Linked DNA regions of Homo sapiens: all the other regions are linked to region 2. Evidence: fine-mapped expression QTL. A gene starts in region 2. Each other region holds a variant in brackets. All regions are shown on one strand. Distances are between the middles of the regions. Region 1 overlaps ITPK1 (inositol-tetrakisphosphate 1-kinase). Region 2 holds the start of ITPK1 (inositol-tetrakisphosphate 1-kinase). Region 3 overlaps ITPK1 (inositol-tetrakisphosphate 1-kinase).

Region 1 (5,000 bases), 62 kb before region 2:
CCCACTAAACTGGAAGCTCCTTAAGGACCGGGATGTGGCAGTTTTGCTCTCAGCTATGTGCCCAGTGCTCAGCACAGGGCCCGGCCTGCCTGGGCACTCAGAAGGACACCTGACGGACAAGGAACCAATCAAACGGTGATGGCCACACTCCACCCCCAGGACCTGACAGCCAACAGTCATCACGCACCTGGCAGGCCCACAGCTCTCTGCACATACACATGCCTCAATTTCCCAGGCATGGGGGAGCTGAATATCCCAGGATTCTGCCCCAGACACCATGGTTTTCAAACTCTCTCTGACCTCAAATGTCTTTCCTGAAATGAAATCTAACATGCAGACCCCAGATCAAACACAGATCAAGAGAGAGTGGCTGGGAAAGGTGGCTCACACCTGTAATCCCTGCACTTTGGAAGGCCAAGGCGGGCGGATCGCTTGAACTCAGGAGTTTGAGACCAGCCTGGGCAACATAGTGAAACCCTGTCTCTCCTAAAAATACAAAAACCAGGCAGGCTTGGTGGCGCATGCCTGTAATCCCAGCTATTCAGGTGGCTGAGGCAGGGGAATCGCTTGAGCCTGGGAGGCGGAGATTGCAGTGAGTCCAGATCATGCCACTGCACTCCAGCCTGGGTGATGGATGAAACTCTGTCTCAAAAGAAAAAAAAAAAAAAGAAAGAGCTGCTCAGGTGAAGGGAGTGGTGAGCAACTCATCCCCCTTGAAAAGCAGGTACCCCTTCAAGGAACCCCTAGGGGTGCCTCATAGCCAAGCGTGAAAGCCAATTCAATGAGACCGGAAACCACCCTGTGCCTCCAAATGTCTCAGCATGGGGAATGGAAGACAGCAGATTGGGCGGAAGCCCTTCCATTGTAACGCTAACTCACTCCCTAATCCCTGCCACTGTTATGGCTATGGGGTACTCACCTCTGCAGTTTTTGGCTAAGAAATGCCAAGAATAAGTACCTATTTCAAGAACAACTCTGTTGTGAGAAATTCCAGCACATTCCACTCTGAGGGCACCACCATCTTCACCCTTTTGTAGCTGGAGCTTGCACCAGGGGAGCGCCTTCATCTCTGCCTGGAGGGGCCACGTGGTGGAAGGGGAATAAGACAGCAGAAAGCACAGAGATTTGGGTGGCAGAGTCCCCAGGCCAAATCCCAGCTCTGCCATTTAAAAGATCTGTGACCATGGGCAAGTTATTTAACCTTTCTCAACTTCAATTTCCATATCCAAAAGGTAGGATAATTAATTGTCCCTGCAGCTTGTAGGACTGTCTTTGGGTTTATATGAGGGATTTTTTTCAAGTGCTTTATAAACCACTCCCAAATGTTAGCTCTATTTACACTGATTTTATTGCTGGGCTCCTAGGAGGCCAAAGGCAACAGACTTAGTTTCCACTAAAGGTCTTTTATTACAACAGACGCCAGGCATCTAGGGCGGCCTGTTGTCTGAAGAACAGCCTGATTCTCCCATAATCCCAAGCTCTCCAAGGTCTAAGTCTCGATACCAGGCCCTGGCTGACTCTCTGACCCAGGGAGGCCTGGTCTGGGTTGTTCTTACCCTGGGGGCCTTATCTGTCCTTCTGTGAGGGCCAAAGGAACCCCCAGTGGGGTAGGGGGACGGGAGATCCTTCAGTGGGGCCAGAGACGGCCTGAGAGTGACTCAGTGGGCTGGAAGTTCGCCCCCAAGCCTCACCGGCCTTCTGGCTCACTCTATATTCAATATAATACCTGCCCGCACCACCACCCTCCCTCCAAACCCAGGTCCCCAAGGGGCTGGTGGTACAGGAAACAGCCCTACATCTCCCATCCCAGGGTTCAGTCCCTCACTCAGAACTGGGAAAGGGGCCGGGCACAATCTCCCAGATGCCCCAAAGACTTGGAAAGCGCTCTGGTGGCTTTCTGAGCAGGCACATCTGGCCCAACCACACCTTTCGTCACCACTGTTTAAAACCAGTGGTTCTCCACATGGACACAGGAAGGGGAACATCACACACCAGGACCTATTGTGGGGTGGGGGGAGGGGGGAAGGGGGAGGGATAGCATTAGGAGATATACCTAATGTTAAATGACGAGTTAATGGGTGCAGCACACCAACATGGCACATGTATACATATGTAACAAACCTGCATGTTGTGCACATGTACCCTAAAACTTAAAGTATAATAAAAAATAAAAATAAAATAAAAAATAATAATAAAAAAAAACCAGTGGTTCTCAGACAGAGGGGCTCACAAGCAGGGTCAACATCACCTGGATACCTGTTACAGATGTGGATTCTCAGCCCCCTCAGACCTACTGGTTCAGAGACCCTGGGAATGGGGCCAGCCACCTGTTTGAAGATGTGCTCCCTGGGGGTTCCAGTGCACACTC[C/A]AGTTTGAGAACCATTACTTCAATCCAGTGGTTCCCCACCCGCCCCTCTCCCGGCTGCCTGTTGTCCTGGGGGCCTCATGACAGCCAGTGCTCAAGAGCTGCCCCAGAGATCTGGATATAATTGATGCCACCCCATCAGCACTTCTTTTTAGAAGTGCTTTAAAAAGAACAGGCGGTGCAGAGGACTTTCACGGTAGTGAAGCTGCTCTGTATGGTATGGTAATGGTAGATGCAGGTCACTATGCATGTGTCCAAACCCACAGAATGTGCAACACCAAGAGTGAGCCCTATGCACACTGGGGACTTCAGGTGATCCTGATGCACCCAGGGAGGTTCACTGATTGTAGCAAATGTTCCAGGCTAGCGTGGGATGTTGACAGTAAGGGGGGCTGCATGTGTGTCAGGGTAGGGCAGATACGGGAAGTCTCTGCACCTTCCTCTCAATTTTGCTGTGAACCCAAAACTGCTCTAAAATAGAGTCTATTAAAAATCAATCTCCCAGGTGACTGTGATTCCAGTAGTCTCTGGAGCCTGGGCTGATGTTTGGGAGGTAGACGGGACAGCCAGGCTTCAGAAACAGCAGGTAAAACTACCCAGTTGTGGAGTCATCTGGGAAGATTCTAGATGGAGGGAAGTCAGACTGAAGTAGGGAGAGATGGGGTCGGGGAAGGAAGCGAAGAGCAAAGGCTTAGAAGCACTTCCTGGCAGCCCACCCAGCACTTCATGCATCCAACCCTGACTGAACATCTTCTTTCCCCACATCCCCTCCACCCTGTCAGTGGGTCAAGTGCTAGCCTGGGATTCACCCCACTTAGAGGTAGAGTCCCCACTTCTAGCAAGTGAACCGAGCCAGTCACCCACGTGTAGCTGCTTTGACGTCATCTGTAAACAGGGTACTGTGGGGCTGGACTAAGACACAGCCCAGTGCCTGGCACAGGGCAAACAAGTAATAAACGCAGGTTTTAATAAACTGATTGACAGAAACTGGAGCCCATGTCTGCTGCATGGAAAACAGCATCCAGACAACGGGTGGTCTTATCTCCTGCCAGTACCACCTCTCTGGCTTGGAGGTTAGACTTAAAGCACAGGAGGGAACCCTGTTTCTCCATGCCCAGAAACAGACCCTATATTCCCAAAGACAAGCTAAAACCATTGGGAAAAAAACAAAAAACCATTCAATCTGTAAATGCTCACTGTCTATTCTAACTAGACACTGGGCCAGGGGGTACAGAACATGTACTCCCTTGATTACAGAGAGGCTCCAGTCCAGTGAAGAGCAAGAAAGATGCCGCTGGGGCTACTGGCTTCTCACCAGGTGGTTCATCCTCGGAGCCTGCATCACTCCTGGCAAGGAGAGCTTCAGGAGGGGCGGTGGCCATGTCCTGATATGTACGGTGGCTTGAGAACCAATGTTCTAGAGAATCTAAGGGCATATATTACAGAAAACAGCACTCTCTCTGCCTCTCATGGCTTTTTTCCCCTTCTGTTTCTTTCTTTTATAAGCCTTTCACTGAAGTATAACATAAGAAAGGAAGGACATGCCATAAGTGAACAGCTTGAATATTTCACAAACTGGCACCCAAGAGGAAGACTGAGGAGAGGACAGTTGCAAGACACCAGCAGGCTCCTCACATTCCCACCCGGCACCTTGTCCCCAAAGGTGACCGCCAGCCTGCCTCCTGTCCCCAGAGAGTAGCTTGGCCTGGTCAAGATCTTCATGTAAATGGAATCAGACACTGAATACGCCTCTGCACCTGGCATCTTTGGCCACGTTTCATGCCTATGGGACTCATCCATGGTTCATTCTCACTGCTGTATTCGATACAACTCCATGGCCAGATGATAACACAGGTCATGTACGTACCCATTCTACAGCCAATGGGCATGCGTGCTGTCTCCTCTTTGAGGCCATCAGGAATGCTGCTGCTGGGAACATTCATTCTACACGTGTCTTTTGGTGGACACAGCCCTCCTTTCTCTTGGGTACATGCCATGGAGGATTTGCAGGGCCAAAGGGTCAGCATCTCCTCAGCTTTAACCAAGCCATGTTCCCAAATCCCACACCAGCCCTCAGCCCCTTACTCTCCTTCATTTTTCTCCCAGTCCCCCTCCCCCACCTCACTCGCCACCCACACTTCTTTCTGTTTTCAGTCTCTCAACCTAGACACAAGTGCTCCACGAAGGCAGAGGGATTTGGGGTTTGTTTACTGGGACTCTCCCGAGCCTCGGTGCTGCCTGGCCCAGAACAGATACTCAAGGGACATACAAATGCCACCTGAACTTCTGCACTCACCTGCGCATGAGCTCGGGACTCCTCTCAGCTGTCCCCTCCCATGCCTCCCTCCCACAGCGCCTTTCCAAAGTCCAAGGACCCATCCTTATCCGGTCCTAGCCCCAACTGCCAGTCAGGCCTCAGGTAGAAACTGAAGGTGCCCAGCGGTCCCTACCACTCCCCGGGCAGAGAGTACAGGCTCTTGGAAGAAGTCCAGACTCAAGTCTCAGCCTTGTGAAGCCAGCTGACTGGAGTGGCAATGACTCCACAGACCTTCCTGAGCGCTGGCTGGGGTCTGAGCACCCAGCAGACGGGAGGAGCAGCCGGGGCACCCAGTGAGGTCACGGCTAGGGAGGTGAA
Region 2 (5,000 bases):
CCCGTCGTCAGTACAGAAGCCCTGCGCCCCCAGATTCTGAATGTGGAAAACATGATAATGTCCTTTGCACTGTCTCTCAGCCACTAAAGTCTCATTGGCCCTCACACCAAACAAAACAACCTCACGGGGCTCCCTGGTCACTGGCTCAACAGTTGCAGCATTTTGCAGCCAGTATAGAAATGTGGCCACCAGGGGGCACTGCCCTGAAAGTAATAAATAAGAAACGGAAAAACTCTTTGGTGTTTTCTTTTCCTTCTTAGGCTTAAGTGATAAAATATCTAAAGCTTCCCTAGTGAAAACACAAAGTGGGCTTCCTCGGGTTCTAGAATGGCCCTGATGACTTCTGCCTTCTTTGAAGCCAATATTTTGGCCAAAGGAAGGCAACTAGACTTTGAAGACAACAACTCTTTCAGAGAAAGTAATGCTCTACTCCCCAGAACGTTGATAGCATAGCTTGCTCTGAACCTCCCACCCCTTTAAAGGAAGAATGTCTACAAGGTCAAGCCAATCTGCAGGTCCAGCACGAGGACCTAGTTGTGAGTCTCGGCGAAGAATATTTTGCGAGAGCCTCCTAATTACCAAGCAAAACAAGCCAACCCAATGACAAGCCTCAAGCTTGAGTTGCAGACACAAGATGACATAAATACAGACAGCAGTACAAAGGGTGCGAGGTATTCGCTGGGATTTCCCAAGTCTTACATGACTGCAGGGGGAGCTCCGGTGCCTCACATCAGAACTGGACTTCGAGAACATGCCAAAGCAGCTGCTCCAAATTTCTTTAGTGTCTTAGAATGCCCTTCCCACAAGTGAGTGTATCCGCGGTACAACGTTCAAGTACCCTTTTGTAATGTTCCAAGGGTCCTAAGACTCATTTTCAAAGCTCTGGCTTCGAGCTCCTCCTGATTTCTTCATGAATTGCTGGGGCCACTCTGCATGCCCTATTGATCATGAAGAGCCTGTCTTCTAGGGAAACCGGCCTGGGAGAAGGCAGCCAACCCCATCCCCAGACCAAGGGATAAAGAACCAGGCACTATCCTGTACAAGCTGTGCCCCTCTGGCTGCAGGAAGAGCGCCTGCGGGGCTTGCACGGGGCAAAGGAGCAGCAGGCCCTTGGGAAAGGCATGAGGCACACAGAGGTGCTGCCAGGCTCACCTGCGCATGCCAGCTCAGACCAGCCACGGGCCCCCAGGAGCACCAGGGGTTACGGAAACCCAACTGTTCAATTCTCCAAGATGTGTGGGGCCCCCACAGGGACAAAAATGCAAGTAGAGCCCATTTTCAAAAATCAGTCTAACAAGCTGCATCACAAAAGGTTTCCACCTGGAGTTTGCAAAAGGCTTTCAGAGCTAGATTCTCTTAGGCTTGCATTGAGAAAAGGGCTTAACTGCTTCTCAGAGGCAAAGCTACAGTTGTGGAGCAAGGGAAGGCCTACCTGACCCAAGACTCAGTAGTTCTGTAATTTATTAAGAACGTGATCTGTTAAACACCGGAGACTCCGCCAAGGAGCACCAGCATGGTGGGAGCAGGGGCACACAGCCCAGATGGCAGAAGGCCACTCCACACCACGGGCATTTACCCAGCACTTTCTACGCACCAGCCACTCCCTAGCTGCGGGACCCCAAGCTAGGTACCCCGCTCCTCTGCCGATCGGTCCCCGTTCTCAGACAGGTGGCCCAGAATCACCACCCTGGCCAATTTGCAGGGCTGCTGCGAGGCTCTAATGAGACAGCAAATCACCACATACATGCCAAGAATTGCTACTCGCTTCAACTGGGCTTAACCTCATGATATGCAATGACAGCCTCAAGAGCCGAGCACACGCGGGGCACATAGTAGGTGGTCCACAAACGTGGGTGCCCTTTCTTCATGAAAGGGAAGGGGACGAAGGAAGAAAAACACTCCGGTCCAAAAGTACCCTCAAGCCCTTACCCCACAGCGTGGATGCCCCGATTTCCCAGGTCCCTCCGCAACCCTCAGTAGAACTCCCACCGCGCCCTGGGCTGCTGGGGGCCTCCCCAGCCGGGTCACAGTGCACCTGAACGCCCCGGTCCGTGCCACCTCGCCCGCACCGGCCACCGCTTCCCTGGAACGCGGCCGGCGGCCGCCACCGCCACCTGGCTGCTCGGACTCAGTCTCCCCGCGCGCCGCTTCTTCCCGTTTGGCTCCGATCTCCCAAAACAACTAATGAGGCTGCACCGGGCTCGGGCCGGGGGTCACCGGGCTCGGGCCGGGGGTCCCCGGGCGCCGGCGCCGCGTCCCTCCTTACCTGCACAGCTCGGCGAAGGCCTGGAAATTCAGCTTCTTGATTTTCTTCTCGCTCAGCCAGTAGCCAACTCTCTTCCCTTTCAGAAAGGTCTGCATCTTCCTCCTCGGGCGGGGAGCCTGGGTCCGGAGGAAATCGCCCACAGGCCGAGTCTGGCGGCCGGCGCGCGCCGCGAGCGAGTGGGCACCTCCTCCCGGCGGCGGGGACGCGGAACGGGGATCGGAGCTGGGGCGCGCAGTCCTGCCGCGCGGAGCGGAGCGGGGCGGGGCGCGGCGGGCGGCCGGGAGGAGGGAGCGGCGCTCAGCGCGGAAGGCCACTGGCTGGGCCAAGCTGCCACCGCCCACGCCCCCGCCGCCTGCGGGCTCGCCCGCCCGCCCACCGGCTCGCGAGCGCCGCGCCGCCCGGCCTGCCGGCTGAGGCTGGGGCACGGCTGAGCCTGAGTCTGAGTCGGAGCTGGGGCCAGGGCCCGCAGGAGGGGAAGCCGGGCCTCCGCAGACACCGCCCCCGCCCTGCCCGCCCTCCCGCCGCGCGGGCCCGAGCCACACGCCCTCAGGCGGCGGCAGAAGCGCGGCCTCCGAGCCCTTCCTCCCTCCTCCTCCCGCCCGGGTCCTCGCCCTCTGATGTTCCCAGCCGGGCCGTAACCCCTGGGCGCGCTTGGACCCCGGCGGGGCGCACGCGGCCACTCGGCCCGGCCAGAGATCCTCACCCGCCGCCGCCGCCGCCACTTCCTCCTCGGCCTGGTCCTCGCGCGCTGCCCGCCGAGAAGGGCGGCGGCGAGCGCCCGCGCACTCGCCGCCCCTGCCCGCCGCCGCCCCGCGCTGGCCCGGCCGCCCCGCTTGAGCCCGCGGCGGCGAGGAAGCGGCGGGGCGGCCGCCAGGGGGCAGCGCCGCCCGCCGCCTCTTAAAGGCGCCGCGCCGGCCCTCGCGGCTACCCGGCGCCTGTTTGTGTCCCCGGGTGTGGGGTGCGGGGCGCGGGGCTTCCTGGGGGCGGCCGTGGCCCGGCGGTCTTACTTCGGGAAGGGAGCCGCGGTGTGGGCGTGTGTTCCGCCTGGCCTTTGGGGGCGACCGAGCCGCTGAGTTTCGGAAACGTCTCTGTACCCCCAGCAGGGTTCAGCACCCCCAAGGCAATCCATTGCAACTGCGCCCGGAAGGAGACCTTCCAGGAATTCGCCCCTTCCCTCGAGGAAGCGGACCCTGGCCCAGGATGGGGCCCCCCGGGGGGGTGGGTGAACACCCAGGGGCCCTCCTAGGCGTAGGACGTGACCACCAGTTCTCACTCTAGGTCCCCTTCACTGAGGGGGGAAGGGGCGGGGACTGGAGGCGACAGCGACAACAGCGGCCGTCCCCGGAGACCCCTTCCTCAGGGGTGCGGGTCAGCGTCGGCGCCGGGGAGTCACTAAACCCCGCCTACCCTGCCCTGCCCTATGGGGCAGCCAGGGAGCTTTCCTGCCTCAATGGTCTCTGGGTTTGGGAAGGAGAAATGGACTTCTCTCCCCAGGCCCAGGCAGGAAAAATGGATTCCCGTGGAGGGAAGGCTCAGAAAAGTTTGAGAGGAGACACTGAAGCTGGCCTTGGAAATCAAGGAGATTTTGATGGAGCAGGGAAGGGGGATGAGCTTGAATTGAGGCTGGGAGACAAGAAAAAGCCAAGTTGCCAGCGGGTGACCAAGACTTCCCTTGATCACACTTGAGTCAGGCTCCTCCGAGACCTCTTTCTGACCAGGCCCCGACCTTGGGCTCTGTCCTTGGCCTTCTTAGTCCAGTTTTAGCCAGAATCCTGCTGTCAAGAATATCTCCACGCTTGGTATGTGATCACCCTGGCCGGCCTACATTAAGAAACTCCGTCTCAAAAAAAAAAGAAAGACAAGGATCTCTCTATGCTGCCCAGGCTGGAGTGCAATGGTGCAGTCATAGCTCACTGCAGCCTCGAACACCCCTGCTAAACTGATCCTCCCACCTCAGCCTCCCGAGCAGCTGGGACTACACTGTGTTGCCCAGGCAGGTCTCGAACTCCTGGCCTCAAGCTGTCCTCCCACCTGGGCCTCCCAAAGTGCTGGGATTGTAGACCTGAGCCACCCCGCCTGGCTTCCCTGCCATCTTTAACGAGAATCTGATTAGTTTTTTTCTTTAACAAGGTAGAGAAAACGGATGGATGGAGAGTGGAAAAGACGATGGGTGGGAAACAGGACTCCTCCAGGGGGCCAGCTAGGGACGGGCACTGCATGCCTTAGGCAAGGGTACTGCGAGTTTCATAGGCCATGGGAGCCTAGAAGGTAAGTGGTGACAGGTTCCAGGGTCAGCTCTGTGGCTTAGAATGCCTGGCTCCTGGGGGGGACATGGAAAGCTGGATAAAGGGAAGATCATAGCAAGGACCCCTAGGGCCGAGGCACAAGATGGATAAAAGAAGGCTAAGGGAGGCTGCGCATGGTGGCTCATGCCTGTAATCCCAGCACTTTGGGAGGCCGAGGTGGGCACATCATGAGGTCAGGAGATTGAGATCATCCTGGCTAACACGGTGAAACCCTGTCTCTACTAAAAATACAAAAAATTAGCCGGGCGTGGTGGCGGGCGCCTGTAGTCCCAGCTACTTGGGAGGCTAAGGCAGGAGAATGGCGTGAACCTGGGAGGCAGAGCTGGCAGTGAGCTGAGATCGTGCCACTGCACTCTAGCCTGGGCAACAGAGTGAGACTCCGTCTCAAAAAAAAAAAAAAAAAAAGAAGGCGGCTAAGGGAGTAAAAA
Region 3 (5,000 bases), 52 kb before region 2:
TCAGTTTCCTCATCTGCAAAATAGGGAGAATAATAAATAGATCCCATCTCACAGAGCTATTATGAGAACTAGGAAGATAAAAGTAAAAAAGTCCAAGGCAGAGGGGGACACAGGCTCCACAATGACAAGGATTTTGGTTCAAGGTCAGGTAGCTGGGGTTCCCTGGAACAGTGACCCACACCCACAACAAAAGTTCCACTCCAAATCTGGACTGGCTCCATACCACTAGGGAATCACTGGAGGGATCACTCCAAAAGACAACTTAACATGCAAGCTGGTGTTTGATACTCTTCAGAAATTAACTTTCCGGACTGCAATTCCCCAAATGACTCCTAACCCTCCACCACTAGCTGCAGATTCCTCAACACAGATCTGGGGCCAGGCTGTGTGATAAGTACTTTGACACTGTATCTCAATTACCCTTCTTAACCTTAGAGGTTGGTGTTACGACAACCCCTTTTTCCAGGCAAGGAGGCTGAAGCACCCTCGGTGCTGGGAAGAAGCAAGACCAGAGGCCACCCGGGGACCACCCACCTCCTCCAGAGCCCACCACTCCTTCCTCCTCTCCCTGGGGTGAGGAACAATTGCAAGGGGAGAAAAGTCCATGGGCACAGCTGCGGCTAGGCTACAGCCCCCAGCCTCATGGGCAGAGAGAGTGGGTCTGGGGCAGGAGTGAGAAAGGAGGGGAGGGAGGGCACATGAGAGAGAAATGAGTTGCTGTATGCGTGCCTGGTGCACAGGTGATAACACAGCATTCAAATCTAGAAGCACAAACTCCCACAAGACCTTCCCTTTCTGTAATTCCCCAAAATGCAGGGGTTTGTTTATTTCACCAAGAAGTACATATTCCTCCTACAGACTACAAAAACAATATATACAACTTACTTATGTAACCCAAAGAAATAATCATCACAGGCTTGCCCAAACAGTATCAAAAGTGGATGTTTATCACAATACTATTTATAAAGGTGACAGACCAGAACCATGGTCAGCATCAACCAAGGGAATCAAAGAACTTCAGTTACAATCAGATAATATTATGCAGTCATTTAAAAAGCAAGCCTAAGTAGACATTTAACAAAGGGGGAAGCTCTAAGAGAATGCTAAGTGTGTTTGTGGGAACAGATTACAACAGAACCACAACTTTGTTTACAACTATGTCAAGGCTGGTGGCTCGCGCCTGTAATCCCAACACTTTTAGAAGCCGAGGCGGGCAGATCACTTGAGGTCAGGAGTTCAAGACCACCCTGGCCAACACGGTGAAACCCCATCACTACTAAAAATACAAAAATTAGCCAGGCATGGTGGCGCGTGCCTGTAATCTCAGTTACTCTGGGGTCTGAGACAGGAAAATCGCTTGAACCTGGGAGGCGGAGGTTGCAGCGAGCCAAGATCGAGCCATTGCACTCCAGCCTGGGCGACAGAGCGAGATTCCATCTCAAAAAAAAAACTGCATCAAAGATGTTGGTGCACACCATGGTCCCAGCTACTAAGAAGGCTGAGGTGGGAGGATTGCTTGAGCCCAGGAGTTCAAAGCTGCAGCAAGCTATGATCGCACCACTACACTCCAGCCTGAGTGACAGAGCAAAACCCCATCTCTAAAAAAAGTTTAATTAAAAAAAAAAGTTTTTTTAATGCATCAGTGTGTGTGCCATTTTTATGCTCAAAGGACATGAATAAAGTCACACTTTATTCACATTTTAGTGTGCTGGTTATCCTTCGGCTAGGGAGTAACACATTTTGTTCCCACAAGCTACACAGGAGGCTCTCCAGACCTTCCTGAAAGGCACTTTCAAACCTGCTTCTGGAGGGTCAGAACATCATGCAGGACAGAGGTCAGGCACTAGCAGGAGGCCCTGGTCCCACGGCAGGTCTGTGCTATTTGAAGTCGTAAAGCAGGTCAATGGTGGCCCAGTGTGAGGGGCTGCAGGGGCTGCCAGGCTCACAGTCAAGGCCAGGGCCTGGCCTACCATACACCAAGGCGTTTCATCTTCTCCCCAAGAAGATATACTGGGTGGGCAGGGGTCCTTGTCCCTG[A/C]TGGACAAAGGAAGGCACTGAGGGCTCAGACAGCAAAAATAACCGAGGGTCCTGAGCGATCCGGCGGAATATTTGGTCGACAGGAAAACTCATCAAGTCCTGCCCTCACCAGGCCCCAAAGCCCTGGCTTAAGGGAGGGCCAGGCCTGGCATTTGTCAAGATTTAACAAGTTCAGTAAATGTGCGCCCCCACCCCACCCCCATCTCCCATCTCTCTCCCACGCCAGACCCTTCTCCAAGCCCCACTCCTTGGCCATTAGCTCAGTCCCAAAGGCATCCTTGCCCATCCCGGCTGCCGATGATCCTGTCAAAACACTGTAAATAACTTATTTCTACTTGGCAGGGCCTGCGGCAAAAATACTGCCTGGGCAAGGAAGGGAGTGAGCCAAGGTCTGCCTCCAAGCCAGGACCCACACCCTCCTGCCCAGGGACCCCTGGTCCCCCACCCACCTGAGATGGCAGAGACCCACAGTGGAGGCCAAACTCCTGCCCAGTGAGACAGGGGTGTGAGCTTCACAAGACCCCTCGAGTCATCTCAGGAGCCAGAAAACCAGTGAGCTTCCCACTCCCCACAGCCCCACACAGCACACTAAGCCCTGTCCCTGACCTCAGGCTACCCACGCTTCTCCTACGAGGGCCTGAGTTTTAGAAGGCCTTCTCACTTGCCCTCCCCTCGTCTCAATCATCCATCTCATCACCATCTGGTAGATGGGCCTCAGAGAGGTTGTGCCACTACCCAGGACTGCACAGCCTTGGAGGGATGGAGCTGGAACTAGGGAGGAGTCACTGGACTCTCACCAGGCAGGCAGTCTTCGGAGCAGAAGAGGCACTGGCTATGCCATCACACCTCTAGAATCCAATCCCAGCTCCACAGCTCACATGCTAGGCTGTGACAAGCCCACCTGTGTGAGCCTCAGTCCTCTCACCTGGCAAGTGGGGCACTAACCCTGGCACTCAGTAGACGAGGCACACACAGGAGTTCTCACTGCTGCTGCCTGGGCTGCTCATAGAAGCCCAGCCCAGACGCCAAACGCACTTTGGAATTTTTACATGCGCATTCTAGAACTCTGAAGCAATCCTACTAGGTGCTTACTGCCCAGACAACAGGGCTGGTGACCTTTAAAAAAAAAAAATTGGCCGGGCATGGTGGCTCACACCTGTAATCCCAGCACTTTGGGAGGCCAAGGTGGGTGGATCACGAGGTCAGGAGATTGAGACCATCCTGGCTAACATGGTGAAACCCTGTCTCTACCAAAAATACAAAAAATTAGCCGGGCGTGGTGGCGGGCACCTGTAGTCCCAGCTACTTGGGAGGCTGAGGCAGAAGAATGGCGTGAACGTGGGAGGCAGAGCTTGCAGTGAGCCGAGGTCGCGCCACTGCACTCCAGCCTGGGCGACAGAGCGAGACTCCATCTCAAAAAATAAAAATTAAAATTTTCGTAGAGATGGGGTCTCACTATGTCGCCCAGGCTGGTCTTGAACTCCAGGCTTCAAGCAATTCTCCTGCCTTGGCCTCTCAAAGTGTTGGGATTACAGACACAGGCCATCATGCCTGGCTGCTGGTGGCCTTCCTGCAGAGAATCCAGGAGCTCTAAATGTTCCCCCAGGACACCTGATCAAAGCCCCCTCTCAGGCCTCTGTACCCCATTCCCACCGGAACCCTGGGAGCCACCCCAGGCGGCTTCTGTAGAAGTGCTGAGTGAGCCCCATGCACCACCGCCAAGTTTCTGGGACACAGCTGCAGGGCCGGGCACCAGCAAGCCGGGATCTCCTTATAGGGTATACTCTAAGGCCATTGCATAAAGCTCAAAAAGAGAAAGACTCAGATTGACAGTCGAGCTGGAAAACAGGCCTGTGAAAGGAGAACTAGACACCAGGGCAATCAGGTCCCTGAAAGGGCTGTCTCTGCCTACCATTTGTGCAGAACATCAGAGAACTTGAGGCAAAGACGGGAGCCACTGTGCTTCCCAGGGGAGTTCTTGAGCTGAGGGTGGATCAAGGGGAAGGAGAAAGACAGAGCCAAGTTACAACTCTGGATTTACACAGCTTTTGGAAAAGTCACGATGAGTGTGCGGGGAATCCCTGGGACCTCCCCTGCCCATAATGAACTAGCACGGGAGGGGGTCATGGGGCTAGGGTCAGGGGTCAGCACTCCCTGGGGGTGATGCCTTCACCCCATCATGGCTAGACCTGGGGAGATCCAGAAAGAAGGAAAACATAAATCAGCCCATGCCCCCAAATGCACCCCAGCCAGAGCAAAATCTGCTCTAACCCCAGAGGACAAGCTGGGACCTCACTCACTCACAGCAGGAGACTCATCCCTGGTCAGCCCTGCTTTAGCCAAACCAAACAGACATAACTTATGCTACAGACATTTCTGGCTTTTTTACTCATGAAAATAAATCAAACAGAAGAGATCCTTTCATTTTGGCTCATCTACCCATCGCATCATTTAACTACACAACACACCTCATTCAGACTCACGCTTCCCTGGGCCACTGAGGATGACAATGATGGTGGTGGAGGTGGCACCAGTAAATAATCACAAACAGCTCCTTCTGAGGACAAACTAGGTAAACAGGTTCTGTGCTGTTCCTTATCTGCATGACCTCACTCCTGGAACTCTATGAGACTGGGTCCATTATTATTTCCATTTTACAGAAGAATAAACTGAGGCTTAGAGGGGGCAAGTAACCTGTCCAGTTCTAAGTCCAGGGCCCAAGTGTGCTGGACACAGCTGACTAGCTGCAGCCCAACCTGTCCCCCATTCTCCCCTTCTTCTTTAGCAACAAAATCCTGAAGTCACTTCTAGACCATAACCCAATGAAACAGCCTGAGATGTGACTTAGGTCCCCAAAGATTTAGGTCCAGAGACACCCAGGGCAGGACTGTTAGTAACAGCAAACCAGAAATAACCTAGAACTTGAGACTCTGGAGCAGAGAAATGGTTCTAGATGCTGGGAC

The links. PIP is the estimated chance that this variant, and not a neighbour inherited with it, causes the effect.
Region 1: its variant is the best candidate, but not a certain one, in a credible set for the expression of ITPK1 in monocytes (Quach 2016, PIP 0.86).
Region 3: its variant is the best candidate, but not a certain one, in a credible set for the expression of ITPK1 in whole blood (INTERVAL, PIP 0.62).

What each region holds. Positions count from the first base shown.
Region 1 is chr14:93,050,966-93,055,965 of GRCh38, forward strand. The region is part of intron 3 of ITPK1 (inositol-tetrakisphosphate 1-kinase); the gene reads right to left. Among named protein-coding and RNA genes, the nearest start is that of ITPK1-AS1, 14 kb to the right of the region's middle. The variant C/A (reference allele first, on the strand shown) is at 2,369.
Region 2 is chr14:93,112,803-93,117,802 of GRCh38, forward strand. ITPK1 (inositol-tetrakisphosphate 1-kinase) reads right to left here and starts at 3,123. Exons shown (of 11, transcript NM_014216.6): 1 at 2,970-3,123; 2 at 2,267-2,503. The coding sequence starts at 2,361.
Region 3 is chr14:93,060,831-93,065,830 of GRCh38, forward strand. The region is part of intron 3 of ITPK1 (inositol-tetrakisphosphate 1-kinase); the gene reads right to left. Among named protein-coding and RNA genes, the nearest start is that of ITPK1-AS1, 4.1 kb to the right of the region's middle. The variant A/C (reference allele first, on the strand shown) is at 2,038.